Linked DNA regions of Homo sapiens: region 1 is linked to region 2. Evidence: fine-mapped expression QTL. Tissue or cell type: spinal cord. Region 2 holds a variant in brackets; the other region holds the start of a gene. All regions are shown on one strand. Distances are between the middles of the regions.

The links. PIP is the estimated chance that this variant, and not a neighbour inherited with it, causes the effect.
Region 1: it holds the start of CLCA2, and the variant in region 2 is fine-mapped to the expression of CLCA2 in spinal cord (GTEx, PIP above 0.99).

Annotation. Positions count from the first base shown.
Region 1 is chr1:86,419,111-86,427,221 of GRCh38, reverse strand. It overlaps CLCA2 (chloride channel accessory 2), which reads right to left and starts at 3,051. Exons shown (of 14, transcript NM_006536.7): 1 at 2,789-3,051; 2 at 1,746-1,883. The coding sequence starts at 2,974.
Region 2 is chr1:87,285,624-87,293,734 of GRCh38, reverse strand. No RefSeq gene overlaps it. Among named protein-coding and RNA genes, the nearest start is that of LMO4, 39 kb to the left of the region's middle. The variant G/A (reference allele first, on the strand shown) is at 3,712.

The DNA.
Region 1 (8,111 bases), 870 kb after region 2:
GGGTTACTTTATACCTTATAGACCACAGTAATTCAGCTCTTATCTACTTTTCCTAACCCTTTCCCCCTTCCATGATTCCTACCTACATCTCATTGTAGACTTGGAAGGACAGGAACTACCTTGCTGGTCCTTGGGTTCTCTGAAGTGCCTAGCGTGGTCCCGTACATAATGATCATTCACTGTTTGCTTAATTGACATTCTGAGGTTAAAGAATTGGTATCCAACAGATAAATGAACAGCATCCAGGGACGATTGTTTCCTTTGGTCTTTCCGTTCACTCATATTTTCACTTTTGCTTTACTTATTTCTCTCCCCTCCATTAGGATCAAGTGTTACCTATGGCAACCTGGTTTTGGTGTTTGTTGTCTCCAATACTTCTTAGTTCTATTGAAGGCCCAATAGATGCATTAAATCTCTATTGACAGCTAGAGACAACAAAGCTTAGTGCAAAAAGCATGGGTTTTGGAGGCAAATAGACATTCAAATTATGGCTCTGTAATTTACTAGCTGTTAGATTTGGGACAAAGTCCATACCTTATTCAAGCCCCAGTGTTTTAATTTGTGATCACAGAAACTAATTTTAAGTTATGTGAGAATTAAATAATATATGTAAAATGCCTGGCACTTAGTTGGAGCTTAAACACTAACTCTTCCCAGCTTACCCCAGTTCCCCCACCTATCCTATCTTCATGTGCAAGCATTCTCAAATGCTTTCATCTGGTCATAGGTCAAATGCTTTTCACAGGCTCTTTAACTTCTTCAGGACATTGGGGTACCTATCTGGATTGCTATACCATTCAATTTCTGACAGAGTAGCTTTGAAGGAGAGCTAAGAATGAAACAGACTTAGGAAATTTCATACTGAGGGTCAGAAATAAGGAAAGGGGAAAGCTGTACCACATGTTTGAGTCATTCTGTTAGAGATGTAGTTACAATCTCAAACCCACTCCATTGCTGAAACCCTGAGATAAGTTGCCAATGCCTCTACTTCTGGCCCTTCTGGTAGCTGCAATGGACTCTTGTTCACAGTTGACTTCAAACAGTGATTTACCATTTATATTATTTATCATTTATTTATAGTGTGCACACTAGTATGTACCAGACATCATCATGGGTGCTTAATCATGATCTGCAACTTATGAGAGCCTTTCAAGGTGAAGTTCCTCTATAGGTGGAAAAAAAAAGGTAGCCATTCCCCTACTCATCCACATCCCCACATCCTTCCTCCCTTCCTTCTAATCTCCTTATTCCCCTAAAACAATATTCTGGACTTGAGCTAATGTGAAATTCTGATAATCTACACCATGGCATAAGATGGCAGTCATATTTTTATATGCATGGTGGTTTATATTTCTGTCTGGACATGCATGTTTATTGCTCCTGACAGGATGGTAAATGGGTATAGTCATAATTGGAACTGTTCCCTTTGCAGCTCATCCTCAGTAGGATAAAACTAGTTCTTGATCCTCAACCAAACTTTTCAGAAAGTACTCCATAAGTTACAAAATAAAGAGATCTTCTGAGAAACTACTTAGGCTATGGCATTTGACTCATTTTTTACTGCACAATTTGCATTCATTTATTCTCATATATTTTGTTGATAACATTCTGCCCATTAATATTATTTGCATTGTTAATACTGATGATTTGTTTTTACTTAACTTCTCACTTTTATCGTTTGAGCACAGTATATTTTGGTGTTTTTTTTCCCCTTGAGATCATTGAATGAAATCCTGGATTCTTACCTTTTCATATGATTCTTGTTTTATTTTGCTGTTATTATTAGCTTTCCATGTGGCAGGTATTAAAATCTTTATATTTCTGAAAAATACTCTTCTCTTGGTAGCATTAAATAGGTAAAATGAAGCTTCAGTTATCATTTCCTACAGCCAGACAAAAGAAAAACTTACTTTACCACTTGTAAATCCTGTATGTTTTGGTTTTCTGGTATGCTTAAACAGTAATAAAAGACAATGAAATATTTTGAAGAGACCCATTTCTTTTAGAGAAAGCCCTAGACTTTGGGAAAACATAGGAGCAAATTTTTAAAAAAACTTTAAATGATTATATGGAAGATTTTAGGACACTAATTATATGTCTGTGCTTGCCTTCATAGTTTTCCCAATTTTGAGAAAGGCTTTTAAGCTTTTGTGGAACAAATCCTTTTCATGTCACACCTGTGGGCACATTCAAGACCACACCTTATGATGCTACTGATTTCACTAAAGCAATACTAAATGGAGGCTCTTACATCATAGAGCTATGATCCTCCCTTGCCATATTAAAGTAAAAATAGTCAATTATGTTACAGCACATTCAAGTGAAAAGAAATAATTTTGCTTTTTGGCCCACCGTGCAGACTCTCACCCTTTCTGCCTGAGAATTCTCACCCTCAGGATGGAATCTAGCAATATGATTTTAACAAGCATGCTCATTATCATGCTTATTCATCAGTTAAATATTCAATCTTTGTTGCCACAATGGGTTGTTATTTTTCTAAGTTGCTACCCCAAAAACAGTCATGTAGGAAAACAAAAGAGCTGAAATTAGTAGCAACCAACAATAACAAAATAGAGGGCTAGATCAACACTCTGTGAGCTGAGACTACACAGAATTAGATGAACAAACTGGCTTAGTTAGCCATAATCATAACGTTGTGGCGCTATCTTTTAAAAATGCTGTTCTCTGTATTACTCAAATACAAACCAGGCAGGGTAGTTAGCTTCTAAATAAGGCTACAGGTCTGATCAAATGGGATGCTAGTATCAATTTCATAATTTCCACTCACCTTAATGTTTGAGATGAGGTTCTGATTCTCAGGTACCTGAGGATTAATTGCAATGAGCAATCCATTATACCCATTGTCTTGAAGCTGTACTCCAGCTCCCAGGAATGGGAGTTCTGAACTTAAGGCAACCAGGAGAGTCACAAACTTCAGGTTGCAAATAGGACCTGCAATGCTCCTTTGGGTCATGTTGTAGAGAAGCCTCCAGTTCACTCACACTGAGCCTGCTGCATACATTGTGTCAGGTTTTCAATATGGATGCAGATGGTTTCTTCCTGAACTTGCAAGGTTTTAGAACACAAGATGAAGGAGGTGTCTTCTTTGAAAAGTCTGGGGTGGATCCATCTGGGACCTGCCTCTACAAGTCCTTTTCCTCCAGGCAATGCTACACTTGCCTGTTCTGTGGCTGAGCTGCCTCCTGAATCATGGTTGGGCAAGAAACATTCTGCCCTTCATTCATTTTATAACTTTTCAGAAAGAAGAGGGAAATAAGACCAAAGGAGCTTAAAAGCAGGAAATATGGGCTGGAAATCAGTATATCTGGACTGTTCAATCCACTTGCAGTAGAAACACAGAAGTCTATAGTGATTTTCCTCTCCTCATTTTTCATAACCTCCTCCATCAGTTGGCACAAGTACTTTCTACTGCCCTCAAGTCATTTTTCATTTGTTGCAAGATTTCCTTGCCTGTTTATTTTGAAGATTTAGAAATCCATTCTGCAGCCCAGTCCCTACAGCCCTTGGGTCAGATAGTCTGGGCAAGCTCTCAGCTGATGGCTGGAGGTCAGATATCAGATATCCCCCAGAGAGGGCCAACTGCCAGGAACTTGGGTGCCTGTGCAGCCCTTTCCCTCTGGCCTTGCTACCTTTTCTCTCTGCCTCAGGAAGAAGAATAGATTTCTCCTTCAGCTCTCTCCTAAGGGCAAGGCCCTGCTTCAGTCAACCCTCCATTTCTCCAGGACCAAAAACAGGATCTAATATATAGTAACCATCGCAAATATTTTATGACTGATTCATAATACCTGATATTTACCTCATGCTTTAAAGTTTACAAATGAACTCATTTAAATATCAATACTCTGATGCAGGTATAATTTGTACTTTTCAAATGAAAATAATGAGTCTTGGAAATTCTGATTATGAAAATTAGCCAATGAGAGAAGAAACTAACATTTTTTGAGTGATGGATTTTATTATGCCTATTTTATGGGTGACAGAACTAATGTTCAAAAAAATCTAAGTAACTTGTTCAAGGTTGGGAGTATTATCATCGTACTAGAATGAACCAACTGACTCCAAATTCCACTGTTTTTCAATATATCATGTTCTCTCTTAGTTACTAAATTATCTTAGTAACCTCGTTTCTCCCTCTTCTTTGTGTTTAAGAATGCCGCACAGTGACATCTATTGTAAAACTAAAGAAAAAGTTTTATTCACAGCGTCAGAGGTCCACAGCAAGCAAAACCTGTGACTCTTCCCTGCTGTGGCCCCGTCTCGGAACATTTCTGGGGAGGGGAGTGTAGCATTTAGGAAACGGTCTGTCCCTGCTCTCAACAGGGATTTCACCAACATTGTCTGTTTTCAACATCTTCATGGGCAGTGTGATGTCACTCTTCTTCCCAGCAAGGTTGGAGTCTTCTGAACTTGGGCTTTGATATTGCACTGCAATGTTGACAGATGTTGAGGGAATTTTTTTCCCCTTGCTGTCTTGCTTGAATCATTTTCTCATGCTTCTTCTCACCTGCTTTTCCTTCAAATTCCAGCTGTGTCCTGGAAGCCTGGCCTGAGCTCCATAACTAAGTCAAATTCCCTTCTTTCATGCTTCCATAGCATCAGATAACTCACCTTTGCAGTATGATCATGGTAACAATGTCAAATTTATATTGTATAATTGATTGTCAGCTTCCTGCTGTATGAAGGAAGGGATGGAGTCTGTTTTCATTCAGTACTTCCCCAGCACCTATCTCAGTAAACTCTCTGTTGAATGACTGAATGAATGGAGTCAGGAGAAGTAAATAAAACAAGATAGTGAAGGAGCCCCGGGTTATAGTGTAAAAATTCTTTCCCCCACCCTTGTTTTCTAGAAGGCATCTCCTCTGTTCTAGAGCAGTTTCCCTCTTGCTCCCTCTTGACAGGCAGTGCTTGAGTATGGTGCTCTCCTTGAAGAATGGGATGGCGCTGGTCATTACGTGGCTGCCCAAGGGTCTTACCCTAAAGTTCAAAGGTCAGCTTAGCTGCCTTTTCTCCCAAACTGAATTCCCAGCCCTAGTTTTTTTCTGCTTGTTCACTGTGTCTTCAGAGTAGAAGGCCAGAGGTGTGGCAGCTCCAAAGGCTCTGTCTGTAAATGTGACTCATTGAGCAGAACAATGCACTTCATTTCAAATATCCCTGGCAGTTTATTTTCTTATGCCAACCTCTTGTGATTTTAAGAATACAAATATTCCCATCGATAAACCAATATGCTCAAAAACTAAACTCGTAAGCACACTGCAAGAGCGGCTTTTTGCCAACACTCAGGGAAGTTTTTCATGACACTTGTATAGGTTGTTTGCTATGGGAGGGAGTGATTGAGGACTGATATTCAGCACTCTCTCCACTTGTTTTTATCATTACTATGGTTCCCTTGGGATGTGAGGGTGGAAAATATTGGCTAGAGAGTGCATGCAACTTTATAAAGAACAGCTACAAATGAACAATTTTGTCCAGCTTCACTTGGGTTGAAACCTGAACAAGCTCACTCAGGCTTTGCTTAGCCCGGGTTGAGAGTCTAGGCATGATATCTACTCTTATCTATCTGATTTTTTTTAAACGTCTAATTCAGAGCCCTTTTTGTTATCAGCAACCAGGCCTGGGACCGGGCCAGCTGAAGGTCTCTTTTTACTGCCTTCTTCTTTCATCAGGCTGACCTTACAGCCTGAAAAGGTGGAGAAAATGAAATTGAGTAAAGGAATTAGAAATTATACTGAGCACAGCATCTTTTTGTGAAGTGTGACTTCGTCAATAAAGTGAACTTTTTATCCTTTCATTAAACAAAAATTAACTGGTCATAGCCATAGATTTTAGATTTTATAATATCTGAGAAAGGAAATATACCTAAAGGAAAAGAAAGGAGGAATACAGTTTTTAAGTGTTTATTTCAATGTTATATAAACTCTAGGAATCTGCTTTGCTTTTATTCTGCTTTCAAGAAAATAAGAGTTATTCAATTTCAGTAACTGAAGAATCTAAAGCACATCTTTGTTCATTGTCTGACTCTGTAGTTCAACCTGGCCCCAGAAGGGCCTGTCTATTTTTTTCATGGAGTCAGCTGGTATAGACCCACAGTCTAAGTGAATAAAACATCCAATTGGTGTCAGAGAAGTCAGGAGATTTGACATTTTGGGGAAATCAAAGAAAATTTTGGATTAGTTCCTCTCAGGCTTTGGTTTCAACAATCCCATTTAGAAGAGGAAAGTGTAGTACACTGTACGGTTGGGCTACACAGCTCATGGGCCACGTTAGTTTATGTAATCCCTGTGAAATAAATCAGAAAAGAAGAGAGACAAATTGTCAAGACTAAGAATTTAAACAAAACACAGTTTGCCAAGGGCCCAGATGGTACATTTCCTACCTCCTTTATCCAATTTCCTTCAAATTTAGACTCATTTTCAAAGCAAAGGAACAAAGTGGATGGTCCAGATAGGGTCTGGGAAGCCATTTGTATTGTCAAATCACCACCATGTCAAAGCATGGAGATCAAGCGCAAAGGTGAAACACAATGAAACATAAACTCAGAATTGAGCATGTCAGGATAAGCCAGTTGGTTTCAGAGATAGCTGCTTGAGAACCTGATGGTGAAAAGATTCCAAAGTTGAACAAAACAGAGACTGTCTCACATTGCAGAAGGAGGCACTGAGTTTGGATATTGTAAAGACACTCTCGGCAATAAAGGCTTATGGGCACCGGTCATTATTAGAAACAATCTCTCATGTTTGTATGGTGCTTTGCACTTTTCAAAGCCCTTCTTAATCATACTGTATCTCATGAGTCACAGGAACTTATAAATTCTGCTTCTGTGGAAATTAAAGAATAGTAAGAGTAGTTATCTTCTTAAAGGACCATTTAGGTGAGATCTGTCTTGGACACAAGGTTAAGATTTAGCTCACAGGTTCTCTAAAATTTATTCCATGCATATCAGTAGAGTGTACTGTGGAATGTAAAGAATGGGAGATACTGGTTTTATTCACTTGCTATAGGATCCAAGTCACATCACCTAAACTCTTGTGGCTTGGTTTTGTCACCTTCAAAATAAGGGGGTTGATCTACTTAATGGTAGTATTTTTCCTCACTTTCCTCATTCAATTCACTTTGGCAATAACTCAACAAATTATCCTGTGTGCACACAAACACACCGAAACCCTCCAAAATTTGCCAAAATGAATGAAAAACAAGAAATACTTTTAATGATAACCCAATTAAAAATGGGAGAAAGTGTATGGAACATTTATCATTTGCAAAACAGCCTAAACTTGCCTTTCGTAAAAGACTGTTATATCTACTATATACCAGAGAGTATATAGCATCATGTGGATATAAGATATTATCATTATTACTACTGTTACTTTTGAGAGAAAAAAAAAAGAGAAAGCAGAAGTGTAGGCAATTTATTAAAGAGATGAAAAATAACCAGGGAGACTCAGAACAGTACACAGAAGTAGAAGAACAAGATTTCGACTCTGTTCTTCCCTAGTTTCCCCTTGATTGCTTCCTGCTCTGACAGTGGCCTCCGTATGTTTCTGAGACCCCAGGGATTTGCCAGATTCTCCTCTTGCTCGCAACCCCACTGGGAAGGAGTAGCACGTATTTTTTGTTCTCCTTCCTCTACTTCTGCTGCTTCTAATACTCCATTTCACATTACCTGCCCTGTGAAGAACAGGAAGCAACTATAACCAGTTTTTCAACTGGCAACTGGGGGATTAGGGCTCCCCCTTCTGTTCTTGGGGTGCAGGTATCTGGGGCTATGAATCTCTAAATAAATTCTCAGCAACAGAATGGGCCTGCACAGACCTCCCTTCTAAAATGTACCAAAAGCTGTCCAGAACAGTGTTTTTCAAGTTTTATTATACCCAAGAATCACCTATTCAAATGCAGATTCTGACTCAGTGGGTCAAGATGAGACCAATATTCTACATGTCTATTAAACTTCCATTATGCTCCCTTACATTTCCAATACAAATGTAAATTAATTTGTGACTGATGCAGCCTTTATTTTATAGTTACCACTAAAATATAAATTGTGAATTAACAGGGAATTATTAATTTCAGCCAATCAATGACATCTTTAATAA
Region 2 (8,111 bases):
GTACTTTATTAGCCTCTTACACCAATAGTTTTAATTAGGTACATATTTCACAGCTCTCGAGCTACTCCAGTGAAGGGCTGCCTTTATCTCTTTTATTTACAGTAACAAGCTATCAAACACACACCACCATAATTAAACTTGGATATAAAAAACTTGTTTTATTAATGGCAGCCTATTCTGGCCTTGGATTTCTGAAACCTGCACTAGGCAGATATTTTTATTAATTAAATAAATATTATTCAATTAAACTGAAAAGATGGGGTGACGTGAGAGGGGCGAAGAGCTCGGTTTAAAAGTGAGATTCTCTTTTTTCTTCCTTGCTGATGGTTTCCTCTGTCTCACCTTCAGCAGGGGAACAAACATCTCTTCATCAGATATTTTAGTGATGAGAAAAGTGATTAAAATCCAGAACATTTTTAAATTATTAATAAGGAATTTAAATGATGTTATAAAAAAGGAAATACAAGAGAAAATGTTACACATTCATAGAATTTTGGCTCATGCATAATAAACAGTAGAAAACACTTTACTTATAATACTATCCAAATTAAAGAGGCAAGAAGCCCCCTGCTTTAGCCGTGGGTAGTAGCGTCAATAAATGACAAATGGCGCCATCTGCTGGTACTCCGATTAAACACTTAATTCAGAGCACAATTGTCAGAGCAATCAGTTCTTGGGTTGTCAAAACAAAAAAGTGATAAAACTCTGTGCCTCCTGATATTTTCATATGGTTAGACAAGGTATAACTCTGTAAGAAAGACAAAGTTAGACCTTAACATCCAGAGGCTTCAGGCAAGACACTGCAGGGAGATCTCTAGCCTTCCTGGTCTCTTGAGCTCTCTTTGAGCTCTCCTTGAGGTATATGCAGAAGGATCACAGCCAGGTCCTTAAAAGACAACATGCGTGCAAAAAAAAAATAATAATAATAATAAATTTTAAAAACCCTGCAAATCACACACTCATTTGAGGGGCTGCCCTTGAGCCCTGAATTCCTGGGTTGCCGTACCACAGAGCACACAGGACTCTAGGAAGCTACCTTGTGCTGTTTCTCGCAGATTCTGTGACACCATAACCGCCATTCCCTAGTCCTTCTCTGGAATGGCTTTTCTTCACTTCCCCTCCCACCTTTCTCTTAGTTGTTTGTGTCTCTGGTGCATGAATAAGAGATTCCTCACTCTTTAGACCTCTCGGGGGCTGGTGTGAAACCAATGAAATAACATTATTTTAATATAAATGATCATATTGATTGACTGAACCCATTTACACAACTCATTGAACAAAAATATATGTGCAATAACTTTAAATAACATCTTTTAAAATTCAAATCCTCAAAAAGAAAAAAACTTTATCCATTATCCCACCTTCTTCAAAGAGTCTCTTTAAGCCTGACCAACGAAGTCAGTCCTTCTGAGGCCACCAGCGCTCACAAATTGAAAATCTGCACTTTCAGACACCACAGTCACTGGGACCTTTCTTCCTGGCCACATTTTGGCATAAAATATGAAATTAGATCATTTTTAAGATTCCTTTATTGTTGTTATAATATTTTTCATAAGTAACAGATGACAGAAAAAATAATTTACATTTTTATAGGATATTATTTGGAGGTTATTGGAATAAAAATATTAACAAAATCTGAGTAAACTTGTATTGCTTCTGCCCTTTCTGTGAGGTAGGACTGAGCTAGGCTTTTCCAATGGGACCTCCATGAGCACACAAGGAGGGGTAACTCCAGCTATAGGCTGCATGATATGTGGATGATAATGTGGGTTACTCACATTGTGTGTGTGTGTGTGTGTGTGTGTGTGTGTGTGTGTGTGTGTATGAATTACTCCAAGTCCCAAGTCCACCTGTTCAGGCTTATATCTCCTATGAAAATAGAAAACAGCATAGGAAAAACTTCCTGCTAGGGAGAATCTCCTACCCTTGAAATCCTCCTTATTGTGGGCAAATAGTCCCTTTCAGTTCCACAGTTTTCCTGCCAGGGTACTGCCTTCCTGAATGGCCCTCTGCCTTGAATAGGGGTCCATACCTACAGGCCACTGGTGGCCCACTGTTTGGCAGCACAGGCTCCATCCCCAGCCCTCAGGTCTCTGCTTTTCTCAGCCCACCCTTTCAGAGTCACAGATCATTCACCGACCCCGGGACTCCAATCCTCAATCAGCAAGATTCCTATACCCATTTTCTGTCTCCCCTATGCCTCCTTGCTGCTTACTGACCCCTCATGCCGCCCTTAATTTTAACTTTTATAGGAGCAAGAGGCTGACTTAAGATCTAGCCCCTGCCCAGACACTTCAAGGTGGCCCTCCCTCTTCTCAAACTCAAAAGAATGAACAGAAATGTGGTCACTGGACATCCCTGATATGAAAGGAATGGAAAAGAAAGAGGCTGGGATGCATTGAATGCCTGTGGTGTGTCAGGCTCTGGATTAGAGCTTTATTAATGACTCAGTGAAGCCTCACAACAATCTTACATAAATGGGATACCATCTGCATTTTATAGATTTGGAGACTGAGACTCAGAGAGGTGGAGAGACTTGCCAAACATCTCCCAAGCACTACAGGGCAGAGGTGGAGTCTGACTTCATGGCACTGCACTACCTCCCCAAGGCAAGGTTGAGCAAAAACTGCTTCTCACCTGGCACCTGCTTAGAGACCTCTGAGGTGCCCTGTCCAGCCTCACTTGAATGGCCTCACCATTGCTTTTGACAGGGTTGAACACTGCCTCCTTGTAACATTCCGTGCCTCCTTCCTAACTCTCTGCCTCTTCCTTCTTTATCTCTTGGGTGGACTCCTCTTTCATCAAAAAACAGTTTCGTTGAACACCGATGTCGTAGAGTTCCCTTCTGTCCCTGCTCTTCTCTACAGACTCACTCAGAGTTGTCTAATTTACCCCCATGGCTCTAAAGGCCAGACAACACCTCTCAGACCTTCATCTCTAGCTCTGATCTTTCATCTGATCTTCTAACTCATTTACGCAAATTTCTGCTAAGCATCTCGATTTGAGCATCCCCCAGGCACCTCAAACTTAACGTGTTCAGAATAGTTCATTTTTCCATCAAACTACACCTCCCTACATATTGCTTATCTTAGCCAATGTCATCACCAACCCCAGACCTCCAGGCCAGAAAGATGGGATCATTTTGCTATTTCTTGAGTGCCCAGCCCAATCAGCCACACAGTTCTGGGCCTCCCATTTCCTAAATATGCATTAAACCCCATCCCCTTCTCCCTGTCCCTGCTGGCACTGTCCCACTTGATATCACAGCCATCTCTGCCTCTGTCTATTGTAATAGCTTCCTAACTGTATCTCTGCTTCCAGATTTGCTTTCTCAAATCTTCTCTTCCCAGAATCATCAATATATCTTTTAAAAATGCAAATCTTTATGTATCAATCTGTGTTTTTCAGGACTCTTGACTGCTAGTGTCAGAAACTAATTTCAAACTGACATATGCAAAAGAGAAAATGTATTGGTTCTTGTAACTTGGAAAGTAGACCCAGGTGTTCAGATGAAGACAGTAGTCCATCTATCTTCAACTCTCACTCTGCTGTCCTCTGGGTTTAAAGTTGGTTTATTCTCAGGAAGGCTCTCCTTGTAGTGACAAGATGGTGATTAGCAGCTCCAGGTGTAAATTCTAGCTGCTTAGCAACCTCAGCAGAGAGAATGCTGTTCTCAAGCGTTCCAATATAGTACCAAAGTGGTTCTAATAC[G/A]GTCCATCTTGGCTCACATGTTAGCCTCTGAGCCAATCACTGTGGCCCAGAGGATGAAATATTGATGGTTCAGGTGCATAGTACATGTCCACCACCCCTGTACTTCACTGATCCACAATATCACAATATCCAAAAGGTGGGAGCAACGCAAATGTTCATCAATGGATGAATGGAGAAACAAAATGTGGTGTATACATTATTCAGCCTTAAAAAGGAAGAAAATTCTGATCCATGCTACAACATGAATGACCCTTGAAACATTACGCTAAGTGAAATAAGCCAGGACAAGTATTGTATGATTTCCCTTTTATATGGTCCATAGAATAGTCAAATTCATTGAGAAAGAAAGTAGAAGAGTGGTTACCAGGAGCTGGGGGAGAGGTGAATGGAAAGTTATCGTTTGAGGTCTACAGAGTTTCAGTTTGTGATGATGGAAGTGTTCTGGAGATGGATAGTGGCAATGTTGCACAACAATATGGATGTATTTAATGCCACTGAATTTACACTTAATAAAGGTTAAAATGGTAAATTTTATGAATGTATTTTATTATAATTTTAAAAACCTTTCAATAGCTCCCCATCAATTTCTGGATCAAGTCTGAGCTCCCAAGCATGCTGCACAAAGTCCTTTTTCATCCAACCCCACTCACTTTTCCAGCTTGTGCTGCCCTTCGTACCTCACCCTGAAAGCGCACTGTCCAGCAGATCTTTCTGTAATGATGGGGAAAATGTGCTGCATCCGTTCTGTCCTATTTAGAAGCCACTAGCTCTATGTGGCCACTGGTCACTTGAAATGTGGCTAGTATGACTAAGGAACTGAATTTTAAATCTTAGTTAATTTAAATGTCAATACCCACGTGTGATTAGTGGTTACTCTATTAGACAGCAGAGTTCTAAAACATAGCGTTGTATCAGGTTACTTTATAATCATGTGCCTTTGCTAATTCTCTTCTTTTGTCTTTGGTGTCCTCCCCTCCCCTTTTTATTCCCAAACTCTCAACTATTCAAGAAAACCTCAGGAAGATGAGGCTGGGAAGGACTCCCGGACACTTCGCGTCGTGATAATCTCTCTCATCCTGGTTTTCTTTCAAGCATTCATTTATTCATTCCTACAGCTCCTTGCTAGGCACTGGAGATGGAAAGATAAATCCAGCTGTTACTATAGAGCTCACAGCCAATTCCTCTTCCAACAATCCAATCACTCCTATGCTACCCATTAGCCAGGTCCTAACTTCCTTTTCTTATAAGGACACTAGTAATATTGGTTTAGGGCCCAGCCTAATGACCTCAATTTCTCTTAACTACCTCGTTAAATACCCTGTTTCTAAATACAATTACATTCTGAAGTATTAGAAGTTAGGATTTCAACATCGGAATTTTTTTTTTTTTTTTGAGACGGGGTCTGTGTCGCCCAGACTAGAGTGCAATAGCATGATCTCTCTCCTCACTGCAACCTCTGCCTCCTGGGTTCAAGCAATTCTCCTGCCTCAGCCTCTCTAGTAGCTGGGATTACAGGTGCATACCACCACACCTGGCTGTTTTGTATTTTAGTAAAGACATAGTTTCACCATGTTGGCCAGGCTGGTCTGGACCTCTTGACCTCAGATGATCCACCCACCTCGGCCTCCCAAAGTGTCGGGATTACAGGCGTGAGCCACCGTGCCTGGCCAACATATGAATTTTAAGGGAGACACAATTTAGCCCATAGCAGCACTCTGCTTTAAGGACTAATACAATTCTTCCTTGCCCAAAGTCCATAGCGACCTTACATGCACAAATTTAACCTCACGTCAGGGAATACCAGCACACTATTCTAACTAAATCTTTCTCAAAAAATCTCTTCTGCTCTTCCTTCAAAAGCACAGCAAAAGACTCATTCAATTTAAATAACTAAGTAGAACATCGCATTATCTGCCAAGAGATTTCAAATGTCCTCAGGGCTTACTGAAAGGATAATGGGTGGAACTTGCCTTACATTTGTACAAAAGAACCAATCTTAGAAGAAGTCAGAGAATCAAACAGCTAGCAAACAACATCCAACTACCCATGGCTGCATCTTTACAAACATTTTAATGATAATAATATAACACACACAAAAAAAACCCCTTCTCTAAAACTAGCCAGAAGATTCTGGTGTATTTTCTTTCTTTCTTTCTTTCTTTTTTTTTTTTTTTTTTGAGATGGAGTCTTGCTCTTGTCACCCAGGCTGGAGTGTGGTGGCGCGATCTTGGCTCACTTCAACCTCCGCCTCCCGGGTTCAAGTGATTCTCCTGCCACAGCCTCCCAAGTAGCTGGGATTACAGGCGCCTGCCACCACGCCCAGCTAATTTTTTGTGTATTTTTAGTAGAGACGGGGTTTCACCATGTTGGCCAGGCTGGTCTCAAACTCCTGACCTCAGGTGATCCACCCACCTCGGCCTCCCAAAGTGCTGGGATTACAGGCGTGAGCCACCGCGCCCGGCTTATTTTCTTTTTAAAAATCAATGTCATTCCTTGGAGTCATCCCTTACTCATATGTACACACTTGCAAGAATACACATGCCCTATGCATACTGTGTTAGGACAAAGTTCTTCAGGGAGTAGCAGAAAACTCAAGACTGTGAAGCTTACACAAGGTAGAAATTTTTTTCTATCTCAAGTAAAATACAGTCACAACATTCAGGGTTTCAATGGAGGGCCACAGGGTCAGGGACCAAGTCCTTATCTTAGTGCACCACTATGTGGCTTCCATTCCTAAGGTCATCTTCTTTTCCACCATGACTACTCCAGTTCTAGCTTCAATCCTACATTTCAGCAAACAAGTGAGAAGAAAAGAAAGAATTTGTACGTGTGACCCTTGCTCACATCCCATTGGCTAGAACTTAATCACATGGTCACACCTAGCTGCAAGGGACTTTGGGAAATGTAGTCTTATTTATGACAGCTATATAGTCTGCTAAAAACTAGAGAGTGGTCATAAAAGGAAGGAGCATCAAAATAAATTGAAGTAGTATTGGATTATAACCCAAAGTATAAAACAAATATCTATGAGACCGGCTGATATAAATAAATGATTGCATAAGTAAATAGAGGGGAATAGACAAATCTCCTATGCAGAAAAATTCCAAACACTGTAATTTATTTACATATTCTACCCTTAAGGAGAGGAAGCATAATTCTCCACTTTTTTTTTTTTAAGATGAAGTCTCACTCTGTCGCCCAGCCTGGAGTGCAGTGGTGCGATCTAGGCTTACTGCAAGCTCTGCCTCCTGGGTTTACTTATGCCATTCTCCTGCCTCAGCCTCCCGAGTAGCTGGGACTACAGGCAACAGCCACCACGCCCGGCTAATTTTTTGGATTTTTAGTAGAAACGGGGTTTCACCGTGTTAGCCAGGATGATCTCAATCTCCTGACCTCGTGATATGCCCGCCTCGGCCTCCCAAAGTGCTGGGATTACAGGCATGAGCCACCACACCCGGCCAATTCTCCACTTTTAAGTGTGGGCTACATGTAGTGACTTTCTTCCAAAAGTACAGTTTGGAAAAGGAGGAAAAAAAATAAGAAACTTTACAGTGGAGAAACCTGACAAATACTACCTGAAGCCAGGTAATCAAGGTTAACATCAACAGTGATAAATCATGTTGATAGTATGTACCCTTGATATAATATGGTTAGAATGGCATTTTACCTCTGTGGTCCTCTTCCCCAAAACATATTACTTCAGTCTTATTATAAAAAAACATCAAACAAATCCCAGTTGAGGGTCATTTTACAAAATACCTGACCAGTCGGTATTCCTCACAACTGTCAAGGTCATCAAAAACAAGGAAAGTCTGAGAAACTGTCACAGCCAAGAGTAGTCTAAGGAGACCTGACTAATAAATGTCATGTGGCATGTTGGATGCGATCCTGGAACAACAGCAGCAACAACAAAGGACATTAGGGAAAAACTGAGGAAAACAGAACAAAGCATGGACTTCAGTTAATAAGAATGTATCAATACTGGATACTGGTTTATTAACATTATTATTATTATATTATTTTGAGACAGAGTTTCGCTGTTGTTGCCCAGACTGGAGGGCAATGGTGCCATCTCGGATCACTGCAAATTCTGCCTCCCGAGTTCAAGCGATTCTCCTGCCTCAGCCTCCCAAGTAGCTGGGATTACAGGCATGCACCACCAAGCCCAGCTAATTTTGTATTTTTAGTAGAGACAGGGTTTTCCCATGTTGGTCAGCCTGGTCTCGAACTCCTGACCTCAGGTGATCCACCTGCCTCGGCCTCCCAAAGTGCTGGGATTACAGGCGTGAGCCACTGCACCCGGCCCTGGATACTGGTTTATTAATAGCGACAAATGTGCTGTACCAATATAAGGTATTCATATGGGAAGCTTGGCATGGGATATATGGGAACCTTTTGTA